Homo sapiens: one gene and its partners. The protein of the gene in region 3 purifies or fractionates together with the protein of the main gene of each other region. This does not show direct contact. Each region holds a gene or a part of one and is shown on either strand. Other genes may lie near its edges. The genes, in order: ASCC3, PPP4R3A and ALKBH3.

What was found.
Region 1: the proteins of ALKBH3 (region 3) and ASCC3 purify together in Homo sapiens (affinity purification with mass spectrometry; 4 studies listed by BioGRID and IntAct, with this or other methods). This does not show direct contact.
Region 2: the proteins of ALKBH3 (region 3) and PPP4R3A purify together in Homo sapiens (affinity purification with mass spectrometry; 3 studies listed by BioGRID and IntAct, with this or other methods). This does not show direct contact.

What each region holds. Positions count from the first base shown.
Region 1 is NC_000006.12:100,876,824-100,887,440, reverse strand, and holds the start of ASCC3 (activating signal cointegrator 1 complex subunit 3), read left to right. Parts: upstream 1-6,111; 5' UTR 6,112-6,380; intron 6,381-10,617. UniProt on the Homo sapiens protein: ATPase involved both in DNA repair and rescue of stalled ribosomes. 3'-5' DNA helicase involved in repair of alkylated DNA: promotes DNA unwinding to generate single-stranded substrate needed for ALKBH3, enabling ALKBH3 to process alkylated N3-methylcytosine (3mC) within double-stranded regions.
Region 2 is NC_000014.9:91,479,311-91,486,310, forward strand, and holds part of PPP4R3A (serine/threonine-protein phosphatase 4 regulatory subunit 3A), read right to left. Parts: intron 6,421-7,000; coding exon 6,322-6,420; intron 2,884-6,321; coding exon 2,266-2,883; intron 1-2,265. UniProt on the Homo sapiens protein: Regulatory subunit of serine/threonine-protein phosphatase 4. May regulate the activity of PPP4C at centrosomal microtubule organizing centers.
Region 3 is NC_000011.10:43,874,572-43,885,092, forward strand, and holds the start of ALKBH3 (alpha-ketoglutarate-dependent dioxygenase alkB homolog 3), read left to right. Parts: upstream 1-6,259; 5' UTR 6,260-6,608; intron 6,609-8,011; 5' UTR 8,012-8,081; coding exon 8,082-8,160; intron 8,161-8,513; coding exon 8,514-8,617; intron 8,618-9,411; coding exon 9,412-9,446; intron 9,447-10,521. UniProt on the Homo sapiens protein: Dioxygenase that mediates demethylation of DNA and RNA containing 1-methyladenosine (m1A). Repairs alkylated DNA containing 1-methyladenosine (m1A) and 3-methylcytosine (m3C) by oxidative demethylation. Has a strong preference for single-stranded DNA.

The DNA of each region.
Region 1 (10,617 bases), on a different chromosome or scaffold from region 3:
TCTAGTCTATTGAATTCCTTCTTTTTTTTTCTCTTATGTGACCTCACTTCTTGAATCCTCCATGCTCTTCTCCAATGTATACTGCTTGCTCTCTAGACTTGCTGCACAGCCATCCTGCAGAGATTTGTCCTTACCTTTCTCTAGCATCAGCATAACTTTTTGTCCTTATTTTGTTGGATTGTATGGCCTAGTGACATTCCAAAAGATCACCCAGGAGAAAAATATTCTACATCCTTGTTAGTCTGAAAATATCTTTATTTTACTCTCATAGTTAATTGATAATTTGAATGAGTATAGACTTGTAGACTGAAAAACATCTACAACTACAATTTTGAAAATATTCTGTCATGTCTTCAGGTATGCAGTGATGCTGATAGCATCAGTCCCTATTCCTTTGTTGATTATAAGTCTTTTATGTTTAGGAACTTTGGGGATTTCTTCTTCTTCATAATTTTTATTTGTGGCATTACATGATAATATCTCCAGGCATGAGTTTTTTAATCTATTTTTCAATACCCTGAGTCTACTCAAATCTGAATAGTTATTTTCTTCTCTGCTCTAAAAAAAAAAAACTTATAATTTTCTCACTCTCCCTCCCCTTTTTTTTAAAAATCTTTCTCATCTACTGGTTGAGCCTATTGGATTGGCTCTCCACGACATTCTTATGTTTTCTTTCTTATTTTCTCTCTGCTATGTATACTATATTCTTATAAGATTTCTTCGATTTTATCTCCAGTACTTCTCTTGAGTTTTTAAGTTAACAAATTTTTAATGTCTGGTAGCTCTTTTTGTTCTATCATTGCTCCTTTTTCAAAGTATCTTATTCATATCTTGTAGACATAATATGTTCTGAATTCCATATTAATTCGGGTGCTTCTTTAAAATCTTTTATTTATGCTTCCTTGCCTTCTTTAGAGTTAGTTTTTCTATGTTTTTCTTTGTATTTTTCTCTCATGATGCTGATTTTCCTTATTTGCCTGTTAATTCTTCATGTTTGTTCATATATATATATATATATATATATATATATATGTATATAAAATTGGTAGTTGATGCAGTTTTCTTTTTGTAGGTAAGAAGTCTGCCAGTTCTCTCTCTCTCCTATGTAGGAATTGTGAATACGTGGCTGGGTTAGGTAGGACAGGGCCAGGAATGCCAAATATGAAGTTTCACTTTACATGAGTAGGCAATTAGCTTATTCTCAGGATGCTGGCCCTGAATGCTTGAATAAGAATGTTTTTCCTTTGTGTCATCAACCTAAAAGTCTTCACTTTTCTGTACTAGTTATTCAATTAATTTGGAGAAGATTTGGGGGGTCAGTTTTGGTCTTTTTGTCTGGTGGCAGATATTAATATCTTTTGCTTGCTCTCAGTCTATATGTCTGAGAAAGCGAAATGTGTATGGTGATAGATTCAATTGTGCCATATTTTATCCCCATTTTCAGCCCTTATTCTCACTTCTGCCCTATCCTGTGTAGCTTCTCCACTATATTTTTTAGGCTATGGTTTTGGTCAAATCACTACTATTTGCTTTGTATCCCAACACATTTTTGAAATTTCATTTGCTTCTCTTGACATCATCTACTTTTTTCTACTCATGTAAGTGCATGCATACAGGCACACATCATCTTTACTCCTTCACTTATTCTTCATTTTTTCTGTTTCTTCATTTTTATTTCTATGGTGTGTAGGAAAGGATAGTAGGCAAATGATATGCCGAGTTCACCATATTGAACAGTAATTCAAGAAAAACCCTTTATATATTGTAAGCACATATTTTGAAACCTGGGTAAAACATATTGCAGGATTCTCCGAAGCTGATTGTCCCTTGGCCCATATGCCCACCTATACAACATTCTTATTCAAAGGGAAATGAAATTACTTTGGGAGAAGCTCACATTTTTTGAGTTGTTTGGTACTTTTAAAAAATCATCTTACTAGTTAAGAAAGAGGAAAGAAATGGTGGTTGAGGAGGCAAACAACACTGTCTGCCATGGTAGTAATCTAACTTTTTTCTTTTCTAATATCATTTATTTAAAAGAGTAGAAAAACATTTTAGAATTGAGTCTTTTATTAATCAGCATTCCTCAAAGGTTAAGCATCAACTTCAGAGCAGGAACTGCACTGGAGTGCAGTAAAGATGGAATTTTAAGACTCGGTGTTGCAGGATAAGGCAGGGGTGAAAAAGGGCAGGGAAGAAGTGACTGACAATAGATAAAATAAGAAAGGCCTAGAAGCTGAGGCTATGGCACACTGGTGAGCTAGGCAGACCTAGTGCACACACATACTGAAGGAGGTATCCAGAGACTGATGGGCTGGAAATGGTTCTGAAACTTGGCAACCCATCCTTACAAACCATGAAGTGGCAAATCTGATAATGAAAGGCTAACATACTAAGGATAATGAAACATAGAAATGAAAAAAGTCAAAAGCATGAATGATTTTGTTGAGCTGTAAGAAATAGGTTGGAAACACTTCCACCTTGAAATTTTCTGTTCTTGAGACAATTTTGAGATAATTTAAGGCACTCTTTGCAAAATAATCATGTTACACACATACAGAAGACACACACAAACATATATAATTTTACCTAAATGTGTTCATATTATGTATAGATTGTGTTGCAAGCTCTTTCATACAACTGTACATTTTGGACATATTACCATATCAAGCAATACAGATTCACATTATACTTTTTTAATGCCTCTATATTTAGAGATGTATTACAATTTATTTAAATAAATCCAATATTGAGCCTTTTTTTGGTATGATACTTTTTTTTTTTAAGACAGTGTTTCACTGTTACCCAGGCTAGAGTGCAAGGGTGCGATAATGGCTCACTGTAGCCTTGACCTCCCAGCTTAAGTGATCCTCCTGCCTTAGCCTCCTGAGCAGCTGGGACTATAGGTGCATGCCACCACACCCAGCTAATTTTCATTTTTTTTTTTTTTTTTTTTTTTTTTAGAGAAAGGGTTTTGTCATGTTGCACAGGCTGGTCTCAAACTCCTGGGCTCAAGCAATTCACCTGCTTCAGCCTCCCAAAGTACTGGGATTACAGCTGTGAGCCACCACACCCAGCCATATGATATATTTTTAAATGCAATGTGGAGTTTTGTTTTGTTTTTCAATTAGAGATGGGGTCTTGCTCTGTTGCCCAGACTGGAGCTGAATGGCATGATCATAGCTCACTGTAGCCTCAAACTCCTGGCCTCAAGAGAGCCTCCAAATTCAGTCTCCTTGGTAACTAGGACTACAGGTATGTACCATCAAGTCTGACTATTTTTTTTCTATTTTTTGTAGAGATGGGGGTCTTCCTATGTTGCCCAGGCTGCTTTTGAACTTCTGGCTTTAAGTGATCCTCCTGCCTCAGCTTCCCAAAGTACTGGGATTACAGGGGTGAGCCACTGCGCCTAGCCCACTGCAATGAGTTTTAATTGGTTTCCCAGCCATGCACTAATTTCAACCCACCCTACCCAATATTGCCAAAGTAATCTCCCAATCCCATTTTGTGACTGCCAAACACTGACTGCCTATTATACTCAATTCTTTAAATTTAAAATTGAGTCTCCTTATAGACTAGTTTGTTTACATTTTAACTTTGTCACTACCTTCTATTAACAATGTTCCATTACAGATAAATAGGTTTTCATTATCTAGAATGCAGTTATAGTCTTGTTTCTTGTCTTTGCTCATGGCATACTTTCTGGACGGTCTTTCTCTTTGTCATCAGGGCCATTTTCATTAGGTTGTCTTTCCACTAACATTTGGGGAAGCTGGGCTTGATGGCAGGTACCTGTAGTCCTAGCTACTTGAGAGGATGAAGCAGAAGAATCATTGAGCCCAGGAGTTCACGGCTGTTGTGCACAATGATCATGCTTGTGAATACCCAGTGCACTTCTGCTTGCGCAATACAGCAAGACCCCATCTCTTGAAAAAAAAAATGGGGAAACCCTGGGGACTATAAAGAGGACAAAGATAGCTCTTAGAGTTCAATGAAGTAAGACCATCCCTCAGTGTCCACAGGGGATTGGTTCCAGGACACTCCCACATACCAAAACCCCAGGATGCTCAAGTCCTTACACACAATGGTATAGTATTTGCATACAAACTATGCACATTGTCCCATATACCTTAAACCATCTCTAGGTTACTTATAATACCTAATACAATGGGAAATGCTATGTAAACAGTTGTTACATCCATATTGTTAAGGAAATAATGACAAGAAAAAAAGAGTCTGTGCGTGTTCAATGCAGACATTACCATTCTTTTTTTTTTTTTTTTTCAATTGTTTTTGTTCCAAAGTTGGTTGACACATATACAGAAGCCATGGATACAGAGGGCTAACTGAATTTCCTTCCAGGCCAGGACTATGTAATACAAATATGATGCAAGCCACCTATGTAATTAAAAATTTTCTAGAAGTCACATAAAAAGTAAAAATAAAGTTGAAATTAATTTTAACATATTTTATTTGATCCATTATATATTATTTCAACATGTAATCGACATAAGAATTACAATATTTTACATTTGTTTTCTAAGTCTTTGAAATCTGGTGTACATTTTGGACTCATTGCATGTCTCAGTTTGGACAAGCCACATTTCAAATGTCAAGAGACGTATTTAACTGGTGGCTACCCCAATGGATAGGGCAGTTCTAGGTAGTCTATTTTCAGTTCCTCTCTTCTCCCTTAAGCCTCTGGAACTGTGATGGGAATAATCTGTCATGTGAATTCCTAGCACTTATCAGCACCTCTCATTATCACTTGGCCTCCTTGCATTATTTATTTTTGTGATGCATTTGTCTTGTCTCATGAACTAACTTGTAAACTCTATGAAGTCCAGGACCAAAGACACATGTAATCTCAAGACTGGAAATATCTTTAACAAAACCATCAACTAATTATTCTGTTGATGTGTGGCTCCCCTGTACCAAGTCCCTATTAAGTGAGCTTCAGAATCTCCTTGAAGCAAAATTCTGTGGTTGAGGTATTCACACATGCTAAGGTAGGCAATTCTTTGGGTCGTGCTACAAGGGCATCTTCTTTTCAGGATCTTAAATCTGTTCCCTGAAGTTTGCATCACATGAAACAAATCAACTTCACATGATAGGTCATTTCATATTTGGAGAGAGTCCAGTAGTTTTCTCTCTTCTAGGTGAGTCCTGGAAGGTTTAATCAATCCTTCTTCACTTGCCCTGTTTTTGAGTTCTCGTCATCATTTTGCTCTTCCCTGATATAATGCCAGCTTGATTAAAGTCTTCAAATGCTGAACACAGCACTTCAGAGGTGGTCTGACCAGTAAAGACAATAACTGGATCACTATTGGCTGCCTCTACAAAACAGTTCTACCAGGCATCGGGGCACATTACCTTGAGGAAGCGGGAATGGCAGAAGAGAGCCACAACAAACATATTAACTCATACTATCTTTGCATTGTTGGCTTTTAGTCTAGAACTCTTTGCAGATAAACCACACAATTCTTTAGGTTAGTTTTTCTTCGTATCTTCCTATCTTTTCAATCGAGTTAGGGAATCTTTGGGCTTTCTGTTTTTGGAGGAGGTCTTCTGACCGAAGAGCCGACTTGCAGAGATCACTTTGAGGGAACTAAGCTGAGAATCCAGAAAGCTTATGGAAAACAGGCCTTGACACCAGAGAACCATGTATACTCTCTAGCAGCCAGAGGGCTTTGGCTGAAAACGACGATAGCAACTACCTGTTTCTTCATTCAAATTGCTCTCCTTTCCTTTACCTTTAATAGGAATTATTTCCTCCACATATTTACCTTACAGAGAAGGGCGGGGAGAAGACGCGGCAGACTGAAGTAAATGCAGGGAAAAAACTCACAGGTAGAGAGGTAGAGACGGCAGGCCTGGCCCGTTGCGGGCAGCCAGGGTAAAGTGGAGCGTCCCGCTCCCGCCCTGGGGCGCATCCTCGCCGCCGCCGGGACCTTCCGCCTCTGCTCCTCCGAACCCAGCGGACTAGAGGCTGGAGGCGGGAGGCGGAGCGGCGCGCGCACGCGGGCGGGGCAGAGGGCCCGGAGTCGACGAGTCGACGTGCCGACGTTGGCGCTGCAGCGGGGCGGTGACGTGTAGGCCGGCGCCAGCTCCACTCTGTCCCTCCTCGCCGGGTCTGTGCGTCTTTGCGTCTGTCTGTCTGACTGATGGTCCTCACACGCGGTTCCCTGTGACTGGGCGCGACCCCGGCAAGCGCGGCTTGGAGGGCGGACGGGGCGCGGCGATACAGCTGCCCGCTCGCATCTTTGGCCCTGCGCTCAGCTCCTCACCCGGCGTGGGAAGTTAAAGTAAAACCGAAAGGGAAGAAGGCGCGGTGGCAGGAGCTGACAGAGTGATGGGAAACGCGTGAGCCAGGCCGAGAGGTGAGGAGGTGGAGGTGGAGGTGGGAGGACGAGAAGGGTCGCCGCGGCCAGGGGAGCTGGCTGGAGGCGGGGACGGCGAGGCGGGCTACGCGACCCGCCAGAGATTCTCTTCCTGCCTCCGGGGCAAGTCCCGACCTGTCATCCTTTTCAGTGGCATGAGGTCGAGTCCGGGGTCTCGCAACAATACCGCCCATTCCTAGAGTTTGTAGGTGGGGTTGGGGATAGAAAACTTAACCTAAGCTACATATTGTCCAAGTGTTAAGCCACAACGTGACCAGATGAGGTTTTTCTGTCCCATGCATGGGTAATTTGTTTTCTTTTTTTCTGTTACAAAGCCTTGATAACTTCGTTTTCTTCACGTAGATTTGGGGAAAGAAATCTTCCTCATATTTTTCCCCCAACACACTGGAAAGTAAATAGGTAGCTGACCGTGATGGATTGTGGGTGAATTTCGCAATCAAGGAGCCTATAATGTCATTTTGAAATAAATAAATGTGTATGTGGGTGCTAGGGAGGTTTTGTGAGTACTGGGCAGTCATTTCAAATAGGTTTCTTATAAATTAACTTACTCATGGAATGCAGTGTGCTAATGGTATTTGCTATTCTTTGGTTTAAAAGAAGCATAATTCTAGGGGCTGGTAAAAGTTTGATGTGTTGTCACTTGTGCATTCAAACTCATGGTTACATTTTCTTTCTTTCCCTAGGTTAGGTGAGATTGACAGCCATTTTCTCCATCACCAGATTTTATGTTTCATAGATTGAAATCCTTTTTCTGATTCTCAAAGTTCTCAAATGTTGAGAATTAAGCTTTTGGTTTTACTATGGATTGTGCTCCAGTTTATGTTGTCTCTTTTTTTTAATGATGGTTATAATAGTCTTGCATGAGAAAAATGATCCTTAAAGATGCTCTTAAGCTTAGGCTAAATAATCCTATTTATATGAGAAATTAATTTTTCATGGTTCAGCTTTCTTGATCCCTGCTTAACAGTTTTTTGTCATTCATTCATTCAAGTCTTCCTATGTGTCAAACGCTGGGCTAGGCCTAGGAGAGCAAGAGAGAGACAGTCTCTGTGCTCATGAACTTTCTATAATCCAGCAGCCTCCTTTTAAGACAGAATCTTGACTAGGGTTCTTTCTCATGCCATGGATCTGTAGTTAACCAAAACAAAGCTTTTAAAAGAAAAAGTTATTGTCAATGTATATATGTAATTGGCATTGAAAGGGGAACAGATGATCTTGCTTTAACAGCATGATTTGATATTGCCTTTGATCAAAAAGTAGTATATGTACCAGTGGTTTGCCATTTCAGAAGAGTAAGTTTTTCTTTTTCAAAGCTTGTTTAAATATAAAGTTCACAGTTCTACCTCAGTTTCTACCTCAAAAAAAATAAATAAATAAAAAGCTTTTTCTTTTGAGGTAGAAATCAGTTTCTTTCCAGTCTTCACTTTGGTCTGATTGATCTCCTGTGTATCTCTGGAACCCCTAGGCTCAAGCAGTCCTCCTGCATCGGCCTCCCAAAGTGCTGGGATTACGGGCCCCATTTTGCCTTTTTGTATGCTAATGAATTGACTAAGAATTTTGTCTTAGCTAGCTGGCTGCTCCTAGTAGCTTCAGGATGGGGGCTGGTTACCAGAAAGGTCAAGGAATTATTAGAAGGTTGGGACTTTCATCCCCACCCCCTAACTGCTTAGGGAGGTGAGAGAGGGGCTGAAGATTAAGTTGATCACCAGTGGCCAAAGGGTTTAATCAATTATGCCTATGTAGTGAAGCCTCCATAAAAACTCAAAATGACAGGGTTCATAAAGCTTCTGAAAGCTGAACATGTGGAGATTCCTTGAGGTGGTGTGCCCAGGAAGTACTTGGAAGTTCTGCATGGAAATTCCCTTCCCTTATAAATTACCCTATCCTATGTATCTGTTCATCTGTATCCTTTGTAATATCCTTTATAATAAATTGGTAAACGTGTTTCCCTGAGTTCTGTGAACCACTCTAGCAAATTAACCGAACCCAAGGAGGGGGGTCATGTAATCCCCAATTTATAGCTGGTCAGTCAGAAGTACAGATAAAAAAGCCTGGAGCTTGTAATTGGCATCAGAAGTGGTGGGCAGTCTTGTGGGATTGGGCCTTCAATCTGTGGGATATGACAGTATCTCTAGATAGTGTCAGAAATGAATTGGAGAACACTCATCTGATGTCTGCTGCAGAAGTGATTGTTTGCTTGGTGCATGGGGAGAAACTCATACACATTTTGTCACAGACATCTTCTGTGTTGATGGTTGTCGTGTGAGAGCAGAGGAAAAACGGTTTGAGTTTTTTCCACTCTCACAAGAGGGCAGGCGTAAATTCCTTCAGTCTGCCTCCCAGAGGCTCATGGATTAGGGTGGAATGAGAATTTTGTCTTTCAGACATAATCTGTGCTAGGCCCTTTTCCACTGGACTTTCGTGGGAAGAGTTATAATACATACTGCCTAATATGTGCTGGGTCTGTTCCACGTTTTCTTGTGCTCGTTTCATCTTTGTGGGATATTCTGGAATTTTCTTTCTGACTATGCTTGTCCTTATCTGGTGTTAAAATATTTTTTTTTATTTGTTTTCCCAAGGACATTTAAAGGAAAAGCCTTCCTTACCCTGTGCTAAAAGTAAAATTAACACAACTTTGGGGGGGAATATTCTGAATATAAAGACTAATCTGCTTTATAGTTATGAGCCTGTCCAGGATTTTTTTCCCCCACCTTTGAATGGGAAACCTAGTTAGAGGATAAGTTAGAGAATAAGAGCCCCATAGAAATTTGGTTGTTTTTAACCATTATATATTTTGTATTGTGTGAAAAGTGTTTATGTGTTTTATTATTTTTGTCATGCTTTCTCTGTTCTGCATGCTTCAGATGTGTTTCCTAACTTGATTGAGAACTATTCAGGAGCAATTGCTTCTTGCTTAAGAATGAGTTAGCATCTAAAGTGAACTTGTTAGGTGGAAACTGTGAATAGCTAAGATTACCTTTGAGAATCCCTTAAAAGGACATCAAGTTGGCATAACATGCTGTCTCTCAGCATGTCCTACACAGCCATGTTTTTCATCCTGACTTGGAATGTATCACAGTTTCTTTAGATGAACTCCCAGTGAAAAAGTTGCTCTGTGTTTGGTCACCACCTTGTATGTTTTTTAAAAAAAGAGAAAAAGTGTTAAAAACTAGAATCATGCAATGCAGCAAGATGCTCACATTTTGAGATGCATGTGGTGATTGAAACAGACTAAAAGAGCAAGATTCTTGTTGCCCATCCCCCATTCACTCTGGAGCAGATATTCAATACCTGAAATGGTAAGCAGAATCTCTAGTAATTATTGTTTTTGTCTGTCTCTGCCTTCCTTTTTTTGGCCTACAGTGTTTGGTAGATTCAAGAAAGTTAAATGTGCCTAGACTCTGCTGTATGAACCAATTGATGGTAATAAGGTTTAATACAAGTAAGAAATTAAATTATCTTTAGGATTTATCATGAAAAAATCACCCCCTTTTGAAATCGCATAATGGAGGATTATAAATATGTGTCGACGATGGTTATTTTCTGAGTTCTGATCTTGCTAATGTTAACAATATCACAACTCAATTTTTAAAAAAGGCACAATAAAATATAAATATTCTTATTCACTGTTTAATATTTATTCACTGTTCATTTTTCAAGGTGTGGTTTGTGGGTACAAGATTCTATTTTAAGTACTGAAATCTTAAATTCTAATTTTACTCCATTTACAACCTACTCCTTCATGTCAGTGTTTTTATCCCTTAATCTGCAGTATATCACTTTGACTATTTTTGTCCCTTTAATAATTCCCTAGTATCCATAATTGCCAGTAACTAAGTGCTGACTTTAAACTTATTAGGAAATATAGTTTGGCTGTTTTGGAGATCTTTTCATATTTTTATAACGAAAAAATACAGTAACTATCTTTTCCTAAAGTTGCTATCAAGCAGTCAGACCATCTTTAGAGTTTAGAAACACAGGTTTGGTTTAAGAAGAATAAACATTACAATTTTAAATGTAGTACTTCAGAATAGTGTGTACTGGAATTCTAGCTCACTGATTATTGGTTAATATCATCTTGCAAAAGGAAATATGCTACCATCAGTTTAGTTTTCTCCTTATTTGGAATGTAAAAAAGGACAGTTACATTTTTAAGACTTTCTTTTTACCTGTACGTATGTTTAATTAACAATTTAAAGATTTGTTCAGATAGCCA
Region 2 (7,000 bases), on a different chromosome or scaffold from region 3:
TGTGTGTGTGTGTGTGTGTATGGGTGCAAATAACAATTCTTTCTTTGTACTACACAAACTTATTTTTTTGTTGTTGAGATAGGGTCTCACTCTGTTGCTCAGGCTTGAGTGCGGTGGCATGATCATTGCTCACTGCAGACTCAAACTCCTGGGCTCAAGCGATTCTCCCAACTCAGCCTCCCACATGGCTGGGATTATAGGCATGCATCACCATACCTGGCTAATTTAAAAAAAAAAAAAAATCTTTTTTGAGACAGAATTTCACTCCTGTTGCCCAGGCTAGAGTGCAATGGTGTGATCTCAGCTCACTGCAACCTCCGCCTCCCAGATTCAAATGATTCTCTCGTCTCAGCCTCCCGAGTCTGGGATTACAGGCGTCCACCATCACGTTTAGCTAATTGTTGTATTTTTAGTAGAGACGGGGTTTCGCCATGTTGGCCAGGCTGGTCTTGAACTCTTGACCTCAGGTGATCCACCCGCCTTGGCCTCCCAAAGTGCTGGGATTGTAGGCGTGAGCTACCGCATCCAGCCCCAGGCTAGTCTTTAACTTCTGGGTTCAATCGATCCTCCTGCCTTGGCTTCCCAAAGTGGTGGGATTACAGGTATAAGCCACTAGGCCCAGCCTATGTAAACTTCTATTTCAGTTAGAATAGACCAATTCACACACTGGGATGACACAGTAAGAGCTTTTCTAATTTTGGGGGTGTTACAAACGCAAATTATTGTCTAGCTCTCAGAGACTTTGACTCAGGTTTTGTGCAGAATTCATGATACTGCACCCTAGGGGACTGTGATGCAAATACCCTAAAACACCAGATCAGAGAGATTGGGCATACTATAAGAAAAAAAAATCTACATTTTAATAAGCAATTATCAATAGACACTTAAAAAATTCCCATGAATCTTACATCATATTAAACACTTTCTTTACATGCCTGACCTCAGTTAATTTTCAGACAACTTTACAGGGTAGGCATTAATGTCACCATCCTTCAGATGGGGAAACCGAAGCTTTAAGAAGTTAAGGCTGCCCAACTCACATAGCTACTGTTATTAAGTGACAGACGGAGCTGAAACTCAAATTCACATGGGTTTAACTCACCCACAGGCACACCCCTTAGCAAAACGTGGCTTTTGGTAGGGATACATGCAGTTATAATTTGCCTCCTCTGCTACATTCCCTAGACCCTGAAACTGGACTTTTACCGTATCATTATCTGGGAATTTTACAAATTCGTTTTAAATTTTATTTTTTTGGTAGAGACAGGCCATAGCGCCTGGCCCACAATTCTCATTAGAATTTATATTCTGTGTTTGGTGACATTTCTCTTGGCTTTGTGCTTCACTCTTTCCTCTTCCAATCTGTTCTATTCTATGCAAAATTCATAGAGTAATAACCCCAAAGTTCAGCATTCAACCATTTCATTAATATTATCCTCCTATAGTTGAGTATGGTGGCTCACAACTGTAATCCCAACACTTTGCAAGGCTAAGGTGGGAGAATTGCTTGAAGCCAGGAGTTTGAGACCAGCCTGGGCAACAAAGTGAGATCCATTCTTTACAAAAAAATTTTTAAAAGGTGGCTATGGTAGCATGCATCTGTAGTCTTAGCTAATTGGAAGGCTGAGGTGGGAGGACGGCTCAAGCCCAGGAGTTCAAGGTTGCAATAAGCTATGGCTGTGCCACTGCACTCCAGCCTGGGCAACAGAGCAAGACCTCAACTTAAAAAAAAAAAAATCAGGCTGGGCCCAGTGGCTCACACCTGTAATCCCAGCACTTTGGGAGGCCAGGGCAGGCAGATTGCTTGAGCTCAGAGGTTTGAGGCCAGCCTGGGCAGTATGACAAACTCCATCTCTACAAAAAATACAAAAATTGGCTGGGGGTGGTGGTGCACACCTGTGGTCCCAGCTACTCAGGAGGCTGCAGTGGGAGGATTGTTTCAGCCAGGGAAGCGAAGGTGGAGGTTGCAGTCGCTGAGACTGCATTATTGCCCTACAGCCTGGGTGACAGAGCAAGACCCTGTATCCAAAAAATCATCCCCTCATACCATTTCTTCAAACTACATTTGTCACACTTACCTCTCCTACCCCAGATAGAGTAACCTTCTGGTCTCGTATTATTATTGTATATTATAATCTCTTAAAATAACTCACAATACTTAACTTTATACATTAACAAAATTAAAACTCAATGTATGTATTTAAAAGGAGCAAATTGTTTTCGCTGCATCTCTTGAAATATGAAAAAAGGAATGATCTAACTCACCTGCAACATGCCAACAATCTCTACCTTATTGAAAAAGATAAAAGAGTGAAGTGTTGATAACATGTTTTCTTCAAAGACCGAAGGAGTTGGTAGAACCATATCTTGTATATACTGAACTCTGTATGTCTGATGAATTTTTTGTTTCAGCTCAGGATCTGATATGGGAATCACTTCTTTAAACTTGGCTGTTTTTGTTAGAAATTCCCTGTGTTTTCGTGGTTGTGATAAAGCAGGATCATATTCTAAACATCCAATGACGTCCATTATACATTCTTCAGAGAACATAACTTCAAAAAGAGCAGTTCGATTCAAGAGAAAGATGCCTTTGATAATTTCATACAAGTGGTGCAGTCCTTCAATATTTTCCAAATCTTCACACACATGAAAAAGCTCCAGGAGCTTTTTAATATAACCCTCATTTTCTAGTGCCAGTGCAAGTTTTTCACGACGAAGAGGTGAAGGTAAAGATGATGCCACAAGTTCTGCAATTTCTTCAAGGCGACTTAATTCACAAGATGGCAATTCTAAGCCTGGCGATGACATATCATCAAAACGCTCCTCTTCAGATTCATCCACAAGGTCCTGAGTGATGTCCACGGAAGGGTCCTTTCCTTGAACCTATGAAAAAAAATTTAATTGCTGACAAAATAGATAACAGGTGACCAGCAAACCTAAATGCTACTCTAAGATGAATACTAGAAATGTTGTAAGAAACCTATAATGGTCATTTTCAAGACAAAACTGCCTACTTTTCTACATTACATTTCTCCAAATATGTATACTTTCAATTTTAAGGAAGTTAGTCAAAGTTCAAAAACAGAATGAGCTTCCCTATAAAGTATGAGGTCTGCTGGCAAGAACAACTTTCTAGGACAGGCTAAACTAAGTGAGACTGTTACGAAACAGCCCTCTGCAGACCCACAACATAGAAGCCTGATGCTAAAACAGCCACTAACATCTCATATCCCTGGCCCTCTTTTCCAGCAGACCAAGGCAAGTCTCAGAAACAGTCCTAGGACTGTGCTAAAGGACACTGCCACCACCAAACTCTTCAATATTTAACTCTGAGGTGAAGACCAAATAAACACCAAATATCATAATGTTATGATCACAGAAAATATATATAATTATAAGCAAAAAGGAAAATATTTAACATCAATTGATTGTAGAAACCAAGGGCCAAAGAGCATGAACAAACTGGCTTTGGACCAAAGTGAGTCACTGATCTTCTATAAATACTGACAGCCCAAACACAGGATTTAAAAAACACTAGGCAGAATACAAGTGTACCTACATAAAAATGAAGCCACATATAAAGTAAATACAACCTATATGTAGTAGAGTTATTCCCAAAAAAGGTCTGCTGAAGGTTAAGTAACCAAACCACGAAAATATTTTCCTTTCTACACACCCTAACCTGTAGCCTTCATGATCCCTCTAGGAGCCTGAAAATCTGTCATAAAACCTAATTTTATGCCACTGGAGGGGCTCTTATTATAAAAAGGTAACTTATATTGACTACATTTTAAAGTAAGGCATTTTTTTTGGTAACAAAAGGTCAAGGATAAACTTTGAAATGAAACAAATTTTGTTATCTTGGCCCTAGAATTTGGGACAGTGAACACTAAAGCAAGTAGAAGGCCAAGTAGAATGGTAAAGCAATGAAAAAAATTAGACCTTATATGGAAAAGCCAAGAAACTTAAATTGCTTAGCGTAATGAACAGATGCACTGATAGATACTAGAAAAGATGACGACCTGGAATACTTTTCTTGAAATGTGCTGCAAGGTGATATGGTCTTGACCTCAACCAAGTGGACAGCAGCACTGAAAGGAGGCAAGTCACATTCATGGCTTGTACCTGCATGGTCTCACACTGGCTCTGAATTTGTTAATTATGTAAGCTCTCATTATAGTTTTAAGTTCCTGATACCCAAACTATGACTTTATCCACAGAAAAATGTTAGATTTTGATTAGCAAACCAAATGAAAAGAGAGGAGTGCCCTTATTATATTAAGAATGCCATCTTTTTGAGTTGAGCAAATTGGTGAACATGGTTCAAGAAATAGAAAAACATTTAATATCTCAGAGAGCAAAATGTAATGACTTTCTTGGATCTAGAAAATGATTGAGAAGTTCAGACAGAACCCATAAAAAGAGTGACTGAGAAATGACACCTTGAACATAAACTATATAAAAGTTGAAAGGGAGTATCAGAAAAGAATATTAAAGCAGCTAGTGATAAAATTATTAAGATGATGAAAAACTTTATGATATTAAAGACCAAACAAAGGTAAAGATCAGACAATATTAAAGGAGAGCCAGGCATGACAATGACAAAGTGAGTTCAGGTTTGAGTTACACATTGGCATAAAGGAAGACTGTATCCAGAGTGGAAGTGTTTGATTCAGAAAGATGAGAGAGGAGAACAAGATTTGTCTGAATAACAGATGCTATTAACATAGCCTGAACTCATTAATGTCACCTCTCTCTCTTTGGGATAACACTACAAGACAAAATCTAGAGACATATGCTATAAATATAATTGTTGGATGGAAAGCAAAGAAAAACTAAAAAGATGGATGGTATTCAGATATAAATGTTAGTCCTTTCATGTTTCAGAGAAGGAAAGGGACAGCTTAACAGACAGGTTAATTTATGAAAAGCACAGCGAAGTAGAATATATTCTTGAAATAAATTCCATTAAGTCAAGGAAAAACTGTGCTAAGGACACTATATCTTCTATGAATGCTATAGCTGTCAAACTTTAGGGTGCATCAGAATCACCAAAAGCAGGGGGCGACAAACCATAGCCAAATTTGGTCTGCCACCTGTTTTTGTAAATAAAAGTTTTACTAGAAGACAGCCCCTCCATTCATTTATGTGCTGTCTATGACTACTTCCGAACTAGAACAGCAGAGGTGACCTAGCTGTGACAGAGACTATATGGCCTGCAAAGCCTTAAATATTTACTATCTTGTTTTTTACAGAGAAAAGTCTGGCCTATAGGGCTTGTGAAAACAGAATTCCTAAGAAAGGATTTTAAAAAACAATTATTGGACCCTACTTGCAGTTTTTGATCCAGTAGGTCTGGGGTCGGCGGGAGGGGTGCTAGTCTCAGAATTTGCATTTCTATCAGTTCCCAGGTCATGCTTGTGCTGCTGGTTTGAGGGCCACATTCAAAGGAATTAAGGAATCTGGTGAAGATTATTCTCTAGATAAAGTAAACATGGAGATGGAGAAACCTTCTCTAGAAAGAAATGGCCTAAGAAGTGTATAACAAGAGCCAACAGCATTAGCTACTAGAGCACATACAAATGCAAATTCACAAAAGATTGTGATTATGTCACTAGGGAAACTCCAGAATAAATTAAGAACATTCGAGCCTAGAGGCACGGTAAGGCTGAATAGTCAGTCAACAGCCATACTGCTCAAGACAAGTACAAGGGTGGGTTTTCTTTCAAAAGCCACAAGAAGTTATGAACAAAGAGTGATGTAATCAGACTTGCATTTTTAAAAAGATCACCTAATTGCTCTAGCTAAAATGTTGATTTAGGAAGATCAGTCAAGACAAAACCAATAAACCAGGCAAGAAATGATGGTGGCTTGGAAAACTACAAAAGTAAAAATGAAGATAAGCCAATGGATCTAGATTTATTATCGAGGGACTGAATGGATAAAAGCGATGATGGAAGGATAAACAAGATCCACAAGTTTCTGATTTCAGCAACTGCATGGCACTTAGAAGGAGATGGGATAGATATATGTGAGAAGATTATGTTTGGTTTTGGAGTACTAAATTTGAGATGCTAGTGAACATGAAAAGAGAAAGTTTCAAAAAGGCAGGTGGATATAAAACACTGGAGTTCAGCAAAGGTATGAGCTAGAGAGTTTAGTGTCAATAAATTACACCTTCCTTTAAATCAAGTTCAAAGACAGCAGTGAATTTAAAAGATCAATTTGAAATTTATTTAAACTCTTGGGCATTAGTTGAAAGCATGGCAAAAAACTAAACACTTAAAGAAAGCATGTTGATTTTTTTATTTAAAAAATTACCTGACATATTTTCTCCCAAATTTCATCACATCCAGCTTTTTCTTGAAAGCTAAGGGCCAAGTCATAATTTTCTGCTTCAGACCACACAATCAGAGTGTCCTTTGGAGACATAAAAGGAGTCTGAATGATTAACATACACTATCACAAACGAAAATGAACAAACAAAAGGAAATAAAACTGTGCTCATTTTTACTTTTTGCAACACTAATACTGGCAATTATCAATGTCTTTCTTTTTCAAAACAATGACTTTTTACACTTCACTTCCCCCAATCTATAAAACAAAAATAATGTTTCCTTAAGGACAACTTAAACCAATATATGAAATATATTCTTTTCATGCATTGCAAAAGATAAAAACAAAACATTATACCAATTATACCAACGCTATCCGAGCATACTGACTTACATTTTATGCTGTCATTAAAATGTCCAAAGAGGAAATCTAAGCATAAAATAGCTAGGGCATGTTAGGACGATAGGGTTAATAAAACTCCTTCTCTCTTCCCTCTATTGTCAGCAGGTGTTTTTCACCAGGGGCCTCTGAGGTCCATGAAGCCCTTGAAATTATTGGCTACATTTGTAGTACGTGAGCATTTACCTATACATAGGTTTTTTTGTTTTTTTTTTTAAACTTAGCAAAGTGCTATGGTTCAAGAAGCAGCAAACTCCTAGCACCT
Region 3 (10,521 bases):
AACACATACATATAGCTAGCAAAGAGAAAACATACAAAGCTCATACAGTCTTTGTTTCTGTTATTGGTTATAACATCACAGGTGGCTTCTTCCATATTTCCCTTGCCCTTAGCCAGAACCTCAGTTCACTGACTTCTTTACCTGACGGTACAACACAAATCTTCATTCTTAATCCAAGTTATTCATCATTCTGCTGTTTTGTTGTTGCTGCTTTTGTAGTTTTCTTTATGTTTTTTTTTTACTGGACACAAAGTACCAAGAGGCACCTGAGAAAATCCTTTTGGTTCCAGACATAGTCCTTGTGTAAGCATTCACACCCTGAGGAAGCAGACCTTCAAACCAGCACTGCTCAGTGTTGCTGGGACAGGAAGCAAGTGGGTTAATAATTATATTACTGAAGGGGGTCACTCTCATTTTCACCCTCATTCCCAGCGTCATGTATTCTGGTTAAGGGAGAAAGAGCACCATATTCTGATCTCTGATTCAAAGTATAAACTGCATCCAATAATACAGAACTCTACCCTTTCAGGGGCTGTCTCCTGATTGGGGCCATAACTAAGTCTTCAGTAAGCCACTCCATCTTTCAATTAGCCAAACTGTTTCCAATGGGTAAGAAGTTAAGCCCATTGATGTACTTCCTTTACTGTGAAATGAGTTCCTTGATCAGGGAATACCATGAAGGGGAATAAGACATTTGGTGGGTTCACAGATGGTGGTGCTGGCCAAAGCAGTACATACAAGGAAGATAAATAAACCCATATCCAGAATATGAATATATTCCAGTGAAGATGAATCTCCACCCTCTCTATGATGGAAAAGGTCCAATGTAATCAAACTGCTACAAGTGGCTGGACGGTCGCCTGACAAATGGTGACATATGGAGGGCTCAGTATTGGTCTTGGCTATTTGTAGGTTAGGTATGCAGCAGTAGCATTAGCCAGGTCAGCTTTGAGAAAAGGAAGTCCAAATTGTTGAGCCCATGCATATCCTCCATCCCTGCCACCATGACTACTCTGTTCATGGGCCTATTGGCCCATGCATGACATTACAGGTATGAGCCACCACACCTAGCTCACACATGTCTTACTAAAGCATCTAAAACACTTTCTACCTTCTGTTCACCATATCCAATCAGCACAATGTCGTCATTATTGTTGTCTAGAGTGATGTTTTGTAGGATGTCAGGATGAGAGGTGGACCTATAGTATGACAGCAGAAGAACTGAGGTATCTCTGAGGCAAGACTATGAGAGTATACTGTTGGCCATGCCAAGTAAATGCAGAATGTTCCTTTTTTTTTTTTTGAGACAGGGTCTCACTCTGTCGCCCAGGCTGGAATGCAGTGGCATGATCTCGGCTCACTGCAACCTCTGCCTCCCTAGTTCAAGCAATTCTCCTGCCTCAGCCTCCCGAGTAGCTGGGACTACAGGTGTGCACCACCACACCTGGCTAATTTTTTGTATTTTTTTTTTTTTGAGATGGAATCTCGCTCTGTCACCCAGGCTGGAGTGCAGTGGCACAATCTTGGCTCACTGCAAGCTCTGCCTCCCGGGTTCACGCCATTCTCCTGCCTCAGCCTCCCAAGTAGCTGGGACTACAGGCATCCACCACCACGCCTGGCTAATTTTTTGTATTTTTAGTAGAGATGGGGTTTCACCGTGTTAGCCAGGCTGGTCTTGAACTCCTGACCTCAGGCGATGTGCCTGCCTTGGCCTCCCAAAGTGCTGGGATTACAGGCCTGAGCCACCGCACCCAGCCAAGGCAGAAAGTTTCTTGTAAATTAATATAGAGAAAAAGGCATTAGCCAGGTCAAGAGCTGCCTACCAAAGGCAAAAGGTTATGTTAATTGCCGCAGTAAAGATAGCACATGTGGGACAGCAGCTGCATTGGAGTCATGGAGTAACTACCTGATTAAATTTACAACAGCCGACAATCACTCTTCAAGATCCGTTTGACTTCTGCACAGGCCAACAGTAAATTAAATGAGAATGAGAATGTGATAGAATTATCATCTGATTCTTTCAAGTCTTTGATTGTGGCATTAATCTTTACAATTCCTCCAGGAATGTGGTATTGCTAGTATTTACTATCTTGGTATGGAGGGGAAGTTCCTGGAGTTTCCAGGTAGCCTTTTCTACCAACTGGCCTTCACTTTGTGGGTCAGAGAGTCAATTTGGGGATTCTGCTAGTTGCCAAATATAACTAATCCAACTATAGATGGTCCCTGACTTATGATGGTTCCATTGATTTTTTGACTTGACGATAGTGGAAGAGTGGTACACATTTAGTAGAAACTGTACTTCAGTACAGTATTCAATAAATTACATGATATATCAACACTTTATTATAAAACAGGCTTTGCATTAGATTATTTTGCCCAGCTTAGGCTAATGTGAGTGTTCTGAGTATGTTTAGGGCAGGCTAAGCTAAACTGTGATGTTCCATAAGTTGGGTGTAGCAAATGCATTTTGACCTATGATATTTTCAACTTACAATGGGTTTATCAGGATAGAACCCCATCATAAGTCAAGGGAGCATCCATATACATTCAGGAACTGGGGAAGTAGCCACTGGATGGATCTGTGGATGACTGGGTCCATTGTGAGTCAAACTTGAACTAAGATTCCATCTATCACTTGAACATCATTAAGCCCTCACTTTCATTCGTGGGCCATAGAGGTGTTCTAGGTTCCCAGGAATTAGTTAAGAGCCATTGCCCAGTAAACCCTAAAATACCTGGGTACTTACTTTTCCCCAGTGTGTAACCATTTGAGTAAATGGCTGCATTCACTTGGATGAAGACTTGGGCCGGGCGCGGTGGCTCATGCCTGTAATCTCAGCACTTTGGGAGGCCGAGGTGGGTGGATCACAAGGTCAGATCGAGACCATCCTGGCTAACATGGTGAAATCCCATCTCTACTAAAAATACAAAAAATTAGCCGAGCGTGGTGGCAGGCAGCTACTCGGGAGGCTGAGGCAGGAGAATGGCATGAATCCAGGAGGCGGAGCTGGTAGTGAGCCGAGACCACGCCACTGCTCTCAGCTTGGGTGATAGAGCGAGACTCTGTCTCAAAAAAAAGACTTGGAGGAAAATTTACAGTATATACTTGTGACAATGGTGCAGGGTCCTTCCTCCAAGAGATGTGGCTTCCCTGTCAATCAAGAGGTTTGGGGTCGTGATATGACTTGTCTGGAAACTAGGTGAGAGATATGTCTATCCAGTGTGGCCAGGTAAGGTTTTTGGCTACTAGACATAGACTTTTTTTCTGTTAGATAGATCAAACAATTCTCTAGTAGGCTGCCCATCTGTTTCATTCCTAGGGACACCATGGCCACTACCAAAGATCCTTATAGACCAACATATTCTGATTACTGGTATGTCCTGGCTTCTGTATTGGATCAATGTCCTTACCTTTAATAATTAAGTGCTGCCACTTGGCCTCATCATCTCCAGTAAAACCAGGGGACCCAACTCAATGGTGGCATCTTCCATGATCACACCTGGCCTGCAAAGGAGAGCAACCACAGAGCTTTCCAAGGATGCAAGTGCTCCCTTGTCTAAAGTATTTCTCAATGCTTTAGAAAAAGGAGCATCTTCTGGATCTTGTTGTAGGATATAGTTTTTGTGTTTGTGTCTATTGCACGTGGGTCAGGGTCACATTTGATAAATTCAGTCCAACATTTCTACCCTTCTCAGTCTTTGGGTTCCCGCCTCTACATCGTGCCTTGGCATCTCAGTAGGATTAACCATAGACTACTGTTGAGTTAAATCTTCAATAAATCCACCAAATAAGCTGTTAGAGTCATTTCCAGTTGCATGAGTCAACACAATGTCTGTAAATGCACTCTAGTAAATGCCTCCATATAATTGGCCTGATATAGTACTATATACTGCCCTCCTTAGTTTAAAACAGTTAGAATCCACTTCCACACATTCCATACATTAGCAAAGTACGTGTAATTAGTATAGTTCTTTCAGCGTGCAAGCTGTTTTATCCTAGATCATAGTGTGTAGCAGCCTACCTGGAGCATTAATGAGGTTTGAACCTAGTTAGGGTCTAGTGGCAATGAGGCAGAAGAAGGGGAAGTAAATTCTGCTGGGTCTTGTAGAGAATGAGCTTCCCTTTTGAAGTCATCTGCCCCAGCTGAGGGCTTAGCAGTGTCTTCAAGCAAAGAATGACTAGTCTCCTCAGACTTAGGAGGACAAGCTACTTCCACTGCCAAGGAAGGCTCAGGGTGCCATGGGTGTTCAAGACTGTCAGTTATCTGGGTCTAAGCAGAGTGCTTATTTCAAATTTTGGGATTCCATTCCTTCCCAATTGATGCCTTAACTTTCAGAAGAGAAACTAACCTGGTAATTCAGCCCACAGGGAGTAGTCAAACACTGTGGGCCACTGTGCACTAAAGAGCCAGCTGAGAGGAGCACACTGGAACCAGAAAAAAGAGCCCCTTCCTCCTCTAAAGTTCCTCCAGTACCCTCCACTGATGAAGCTCACTGTCCATTGAACCAAAAGGCAAGGGAGAAACCTTCCAATATTGCAAACAGGGTAGTGAAGGGTGGGTTTGGAATGGAGACTCAATAGGTTGATAATTGGCAACACACTTCGCCTTCATTCCTTCTCCCATGGTCTCTACCACCACCTCCTGATAAAAACTCAAACACTTCAAATAGAAATAAGAAAGTCAAGACCCTAATGAGGATGCCAAGACCATTAAGAACATCTAATACTATATACTCGCATCGTCTAGGGTAACCAACCATCTCAGTTTGCCCAGGACTGTCCTGGCTTTAGCACTTAAAGTCCTGTGTCTTGGGAAACTCCTCAGGCCCATACAAACCAGAACAATTTGTCATCCTACATATGTCCTAGAGGTTTTCAAAATTTTTGTGCACCAGAATCACTTGGGTGCTTGTTAAAAACGCAGGTGATTCTGTTAAACAAAAAAAAAGCAGTAATTTCAGATGCAAGTAAATCATGGATTGATCTTTGAGAAATACACTACGTAGAGGCTGAAGAGGTGTCAATCACTACTTTTAGGAACTCCTCAATCCAGACTTCTTTGTTCCTGTTCCAAAACTATAATCATTGAAAAGAAAGAAATAACATATTTTAGAAGATACAGCCAAAGTTCCTGAGCCAGAAGCAGACATTGACAAATTAGTTGATGGGGGAAAAAAACTGTAGTGTGGCCTTAGCATTTTCTCTCCTTTCAGGTCTAGGATAAATCATTTTTTTCCTTCAGTGTCACAAAGTATAACAAATAATAATGAGTGCTGTGAAAATGGATTTGATAGTAGCAACAATATAGGTACACATTGATGAGGTGTACCTATAATGAGCTTCCTGAAGGTAAACACTCATATCAGGCTTATTTTAAAGATTTCCACAGTGACTATACTTTGGCGGATCTTAGAGAATGACTTGCATAAAACAGTCAATTCAGTGCTACTTTTGCTATTTTCATACTGTAAAGTACATGGTTTAACATGACCATTTTAAAGATGTTTCTCATGAGCTCAAATGGGGTGAGCTCTTTTTCATTTTTTGAGTTTTTGTTGTGTTCCAGGCATTGTGCTATATTCTTTAAATGCATTATCTCACTTAATCCTCCCAAAAAGAGCGATACCCATTTTAAAAAGAGGCAGAGTACTTGCCCTAGATTATACAACTAGTAAGTGGTGGTGTCTGGGCCAAAATGTAGGTCTGTTCACTCAAGCAAATTTGCTTAGCACTGGAGAGAGCCAAGGTGAATTAAGGCGTGGTCCTACGCCCTGCTGTAAATGCTGTGTTCGGAGGTGTGCACAGGCTGCAATAGGAACACAAAGGAGGCTCATTTCAGGCTCTCCGTGGTTTTTAGGATAAAATGCAAATCCTTTTGCCTAACACATTATAACCAGGTCCCCCAAACTCCTCTCCCTTTATCTAGTCCCACAGGGACCCGGTCACTCTTTCTGCCACAAAGATGCCGATGCTTGGACATCTCCAGTTTCGAGGAACTCACGTAGGAGACACGCCTTCACTTCCACCTTTGCCAAACCCCGACCCCTTCACACCGCTCCCCTGCACTCTCAATCCCTGTCCGCTGCAACACATATCCCCTCATCAGCACCTTCGGTGATTAGGCCCTCCAGGCGCGGGGGATGTGGGACTACCCGGACTGAGGACTGCGCACCGGAAGTAGTGGCGGCGCTGCGTAACGTCGAGAGGAAGTGCCTGATGCCGCGGCCTGTGATTGGGAGTTGCTGGAGTCGGTGCTTCACTCTTAAGGTTCCGATCACAGACTGCGGAGTGGGTCAGGGGCTGCGAGGGCTGCCCCAAGTCCTACCGGGTTTGCACGGGCGCGCCCGGCTCCGCCCGCAAGTGCGCCTTCCTGACTTACTGCTGGGTGCGCGGGGCTGGGGGTGCGAGTACCACCCCTGAAGTCTCTTCCTGGGCGACCTCCGGGGCCTCATTCTAGGCCTCCTTAAAGAGAAGGATCTAAATTAGGAAAAGGAAGTGCCCTTATCCACGACCAAGCTCTTCCACCTGCGGAGCTCGCTTAGTCTGCACCTCAACCGTGCGGAAAGTGACTGCCCTGTTTACTGAGGAAAAACTGGGGCTCAGAAAGGTGAAGTCATTTGCCATGGGCCATGCAGCTGGGAAGTGACAGATCTGGATTCAAAGCGAGTTCTGGCTGGCGCCAGAGTCCTTGTATTTTACAGCACTGGTTCTCAAGCTTTATGTGCATTAAGAATTCCTGGGTTGAGGGTGGCGTTAGTTAACAAATTCTGGGACTCTACAAATTGAGTAGATCTGGGATGGGGCTCTGGAATCTATTTTCAACAATTGTTCCCTGGCAAATAACATATGGCTCCCCAGTGAATGGAGCAAGAAGGTGAGCAAGTCGTATCCTCTGCGGGGACTGTAGGTAATTGTGTTACGCTTTTAGGGCCTCAATTGAGAGAACATGTCAAACGGGAGCTCCTGGGATTGGAGAATTGGTATTTGATTGTCATTAACTCTTCTGGGCAGATGGCAGCCTCTGCGTCTCTCCACCTATTAAATGAAATGAATTACATGCTTATCATCTGGGGGAACTTGTTAAACACACAGATTCCTGGGCCTGGCTCAGCTCTACTGAATCAGAAGAGGTGGGAGATGGGACCTGGGAATCTATAGTCTAAGCAAGCTATTAATATAAAACGAGCTTTTACCTTTGAGAACTTGAGGTGTGAAGCTTTCTTAGGTAGAAGCATAAAGAAATAGATTACAGATGTGGAACATGTGGCTTGAATTTCCTTGTTGTTTTGGTAGCTGTACGTGCTTCTGCATTTGCTGTAGGCTAAGCTTTTACTGGTACAACTGTCAAATTAGTATTATTAGCCATTATGAGGTGGATTTATCCGTTAGCTGGAGACAGGAGTTTAATATAAGTTGAATGTTAATCTGTCTGTTGTTGATTTCCTGAGTGGCTTTGGGTGCATCATTGAACTTTACCGTCCACATACATACCTGCATTGTGTCAAATCTTACACTGCTTGTTATAAAGACAAATACCTGTATCCATCCTAAATCAGATTTTCTGAAGGTGGGCCATAGGTATTTTGAACAAACTTCCAGGGAAGTTTGATGCAGCCAGTGATAATGGAATATATGCTTGGAAACAGTCTTAGCCGATTTCTCAATGTCCATGTAGGTGAAAATGGGAATAGTACAGTTTCCTTATATTCTACTCTTGGGGACTATTAAGAGGAATGTGGTTTATAATAGGTCCTAATTTTAGAATTTCTTAAAATGCACTTTCTTGTGAAAGAAACAAAAGTACTATGGTAAGATTACAAAAGGTGAATGCTAAAGCCAGCAGCCCCAAATGACTAGGCTTCTTGAATGAAATGTTGTGATGACATAAACTGATTTTACATGGAAGCTCTATTGCCATTGAGAGTCTTCTGCCTGAAATTAATTATGCCTTAGGAGTAATTGTTCACAATCCTAACTAAAAGCACTGTTTTGTTTTGTTTTAATAAACAGATACCATGGAGTAGTTTGAAACAGGAACAAAATCTTCTGAAAGCTCGGAGCAGAAGCCTTTTTGGTCAACATGGAGGAAAAAAGACGGCGAGCCCGAGTTCAGGGAGCCTGGGCTGCCCCTGTTAAAAGCCAGGCCATTGCTCAGCCAGGCAAGAATCTGTAGGGATTTTGTGTGTGTGTGGATATGGACAACTCTCATTCTCTTTTATTTATATCCTTTTGGTTTATAATGGACTTCCATTTCAATTGACGTCAAGGAATTGTTTAAAATGTGGCTGATATTTTGTCCGATTTTGTTGATGGTGAGCTAAGGGTGGGTCTTTAATGTTCCTCATATTTAGTCCACACCCTCAAACCTTTCAGTATCTTCTGTTGACTTTACCAGTTAGTTTCTACATGTCATAGAGATCATCTCCAAGTGGGCTTTATTGGCCCTTGCTCAGTAGAAGGTGCTGAGAACAGACTTTCCCCTGGTTTGAGGCTGTCCCCTCTCTTGCTTCAGCTACCACTGCTAAGAGCCATCTCCACCAGAAGCCTGGCCAGACCTGGAAGAACAAAGAGCATCATCTCTCTGACAGAGAGTTTGTGTTCAAAGAACCTCAGCAGGTAAATTCATGGTTTTTTCTTCAATAGTGATAAAAATTTGCTTAGAAAAGTGATATTCACACAGTAGACACTCAAATAAATAATGACTGAATAAATTCACTAATAGCAGAGCAGAAGAACTATAATAATAATGAAATGAGAAATATTTCAGTTCCTTTCTATGTCTGGGGATTCTTCGTAGTCTGCTCCCAGTTTATGGTCACATGTTATTCCCGTATTTTTGGCAAGGAGGTTACACCATAATGAGAGCTTGCTTGCATTGGTTATTTGAGCTCCAGCAGTCCTAAAACTGTGCTGTCTTCAGTGCTATTGCACTTCACCATCTTTGGAATTGGATTAAAATTTCAGTTTTTACAATAAAATGCCTGATTTTTAGCCCTTTTTTCCCATGAGGAAAAATGTAGGAAACAGTGAAGATTTACTTTTTAATAATGTGGAAAAGTTAAAAAGTTGGGTTTCTTGCCATAGTAACAACCCTATAAATAATTATTAAAACTCCTTATTTTATAGCATATTTTCTATTTTAAAAAATCTTGTCAAGATTTTTCCAGAGCTGCTGGCTGCTAGGAAAATTTATTCTATTAATAATTGTATCTTCTTTTACTGTCTACTAGCAAATGTGAAGTAGTTTTAAGAAGAGTGGAGACAAGGGTCTCTAGTGGGTTAGTGAGAAGTTGGAATAGAAAAGAGATAGTTTTTAACTTTATTTTGACCAGAAATGGGAAGATATGGTAAGTCAGTATCCTTGAGGATTAAGAACATCCCAGAAGTAAGATCCGCCTATTTCCTTGCAGGTAGTACGTAGAGCTCCTGAGCCACGAGTGATTGAGTAAGTAATTTGCTGTCTTCCTGTAATTGTTGCCCACAGTGAAATGAAGAGCCTGGAATCTTTCCTCACTGTTTTTTCTATCTGGAAGAGAATGGCCCAATAAGTGTCTTAACTGTAGTCTGGGATATTCCCATCTCAAATGTCTTTAAACTTGATCTTTTGAGAAGACTTTCTGAATTTGCTGATAGTATTGAAAATGCAACAAGATATCCATATGTTAAACTTTGACTTGTGTAGATTTCCTGGCCCTATTTCACCGATATCTGTAGACAGTAAGCTAAACCTCTCAGGCAAAGACAGAGAGGGATTTTTCCTGAGTCATTGAAGCATGGTTCTTTGAGAAGCCATTAATTGCCTCTTTTTTTTTTTTTTTTTTTTACTAGCAATGCTATGAAAGCTGCTAGTGCTGTAGATGAGCTTACAGTCCATTTATTAAAACCATGTAATTATTCCAGAACAATTTAAATGATAGTAAACATTCTTCTTATATTGATCTGTGTCTAAAATGTTCTTGTCCAAAGTTGGTGAGAGATGCTTTGACTCCTCTTTTTATGCTTGTCAGTTTTCATCTGATGTAGATAAATTGTCAGTAGAAACTATTCTTTTATCTTAGCAAATTAGCATCAGATATATGTTCTTGCCCATGATCAATCTGTTTGTTATGCTGTTTGACTGCTTGCAGATTGGCTTGTATATCTTAGAAAAAGTCGCAGGCTAATAGTCTTTGGTTGTTTATTATTTTTTATTTTTTTGGAACAGGCTGTCACTCTGTCACTCAGGCTGGAGTGCAGTGGCATAATCAAAACTCACTGTAGCCTCCATCTTCTGGGCTCAAGTGATCCTCCCACCTCAGCCTCCCGAGTAGCTGGGACCACAGGCACACACCACCATGCCTTGCTCCTTTTTTAAAAAATTTTTTGTAGAGATGGGATCTCCCTATGTTGCCTGGGCTGGTTTCGAATTCCTGGGCTGAAATGATCCTCCCACCTCAGCCTCCCAAAGTGCTGATATTACAGGGATGAGCTACCATGCCAGGCCTTTGGTTGTTTTAAAAAAACAAGTGTGTTAGTGCCTT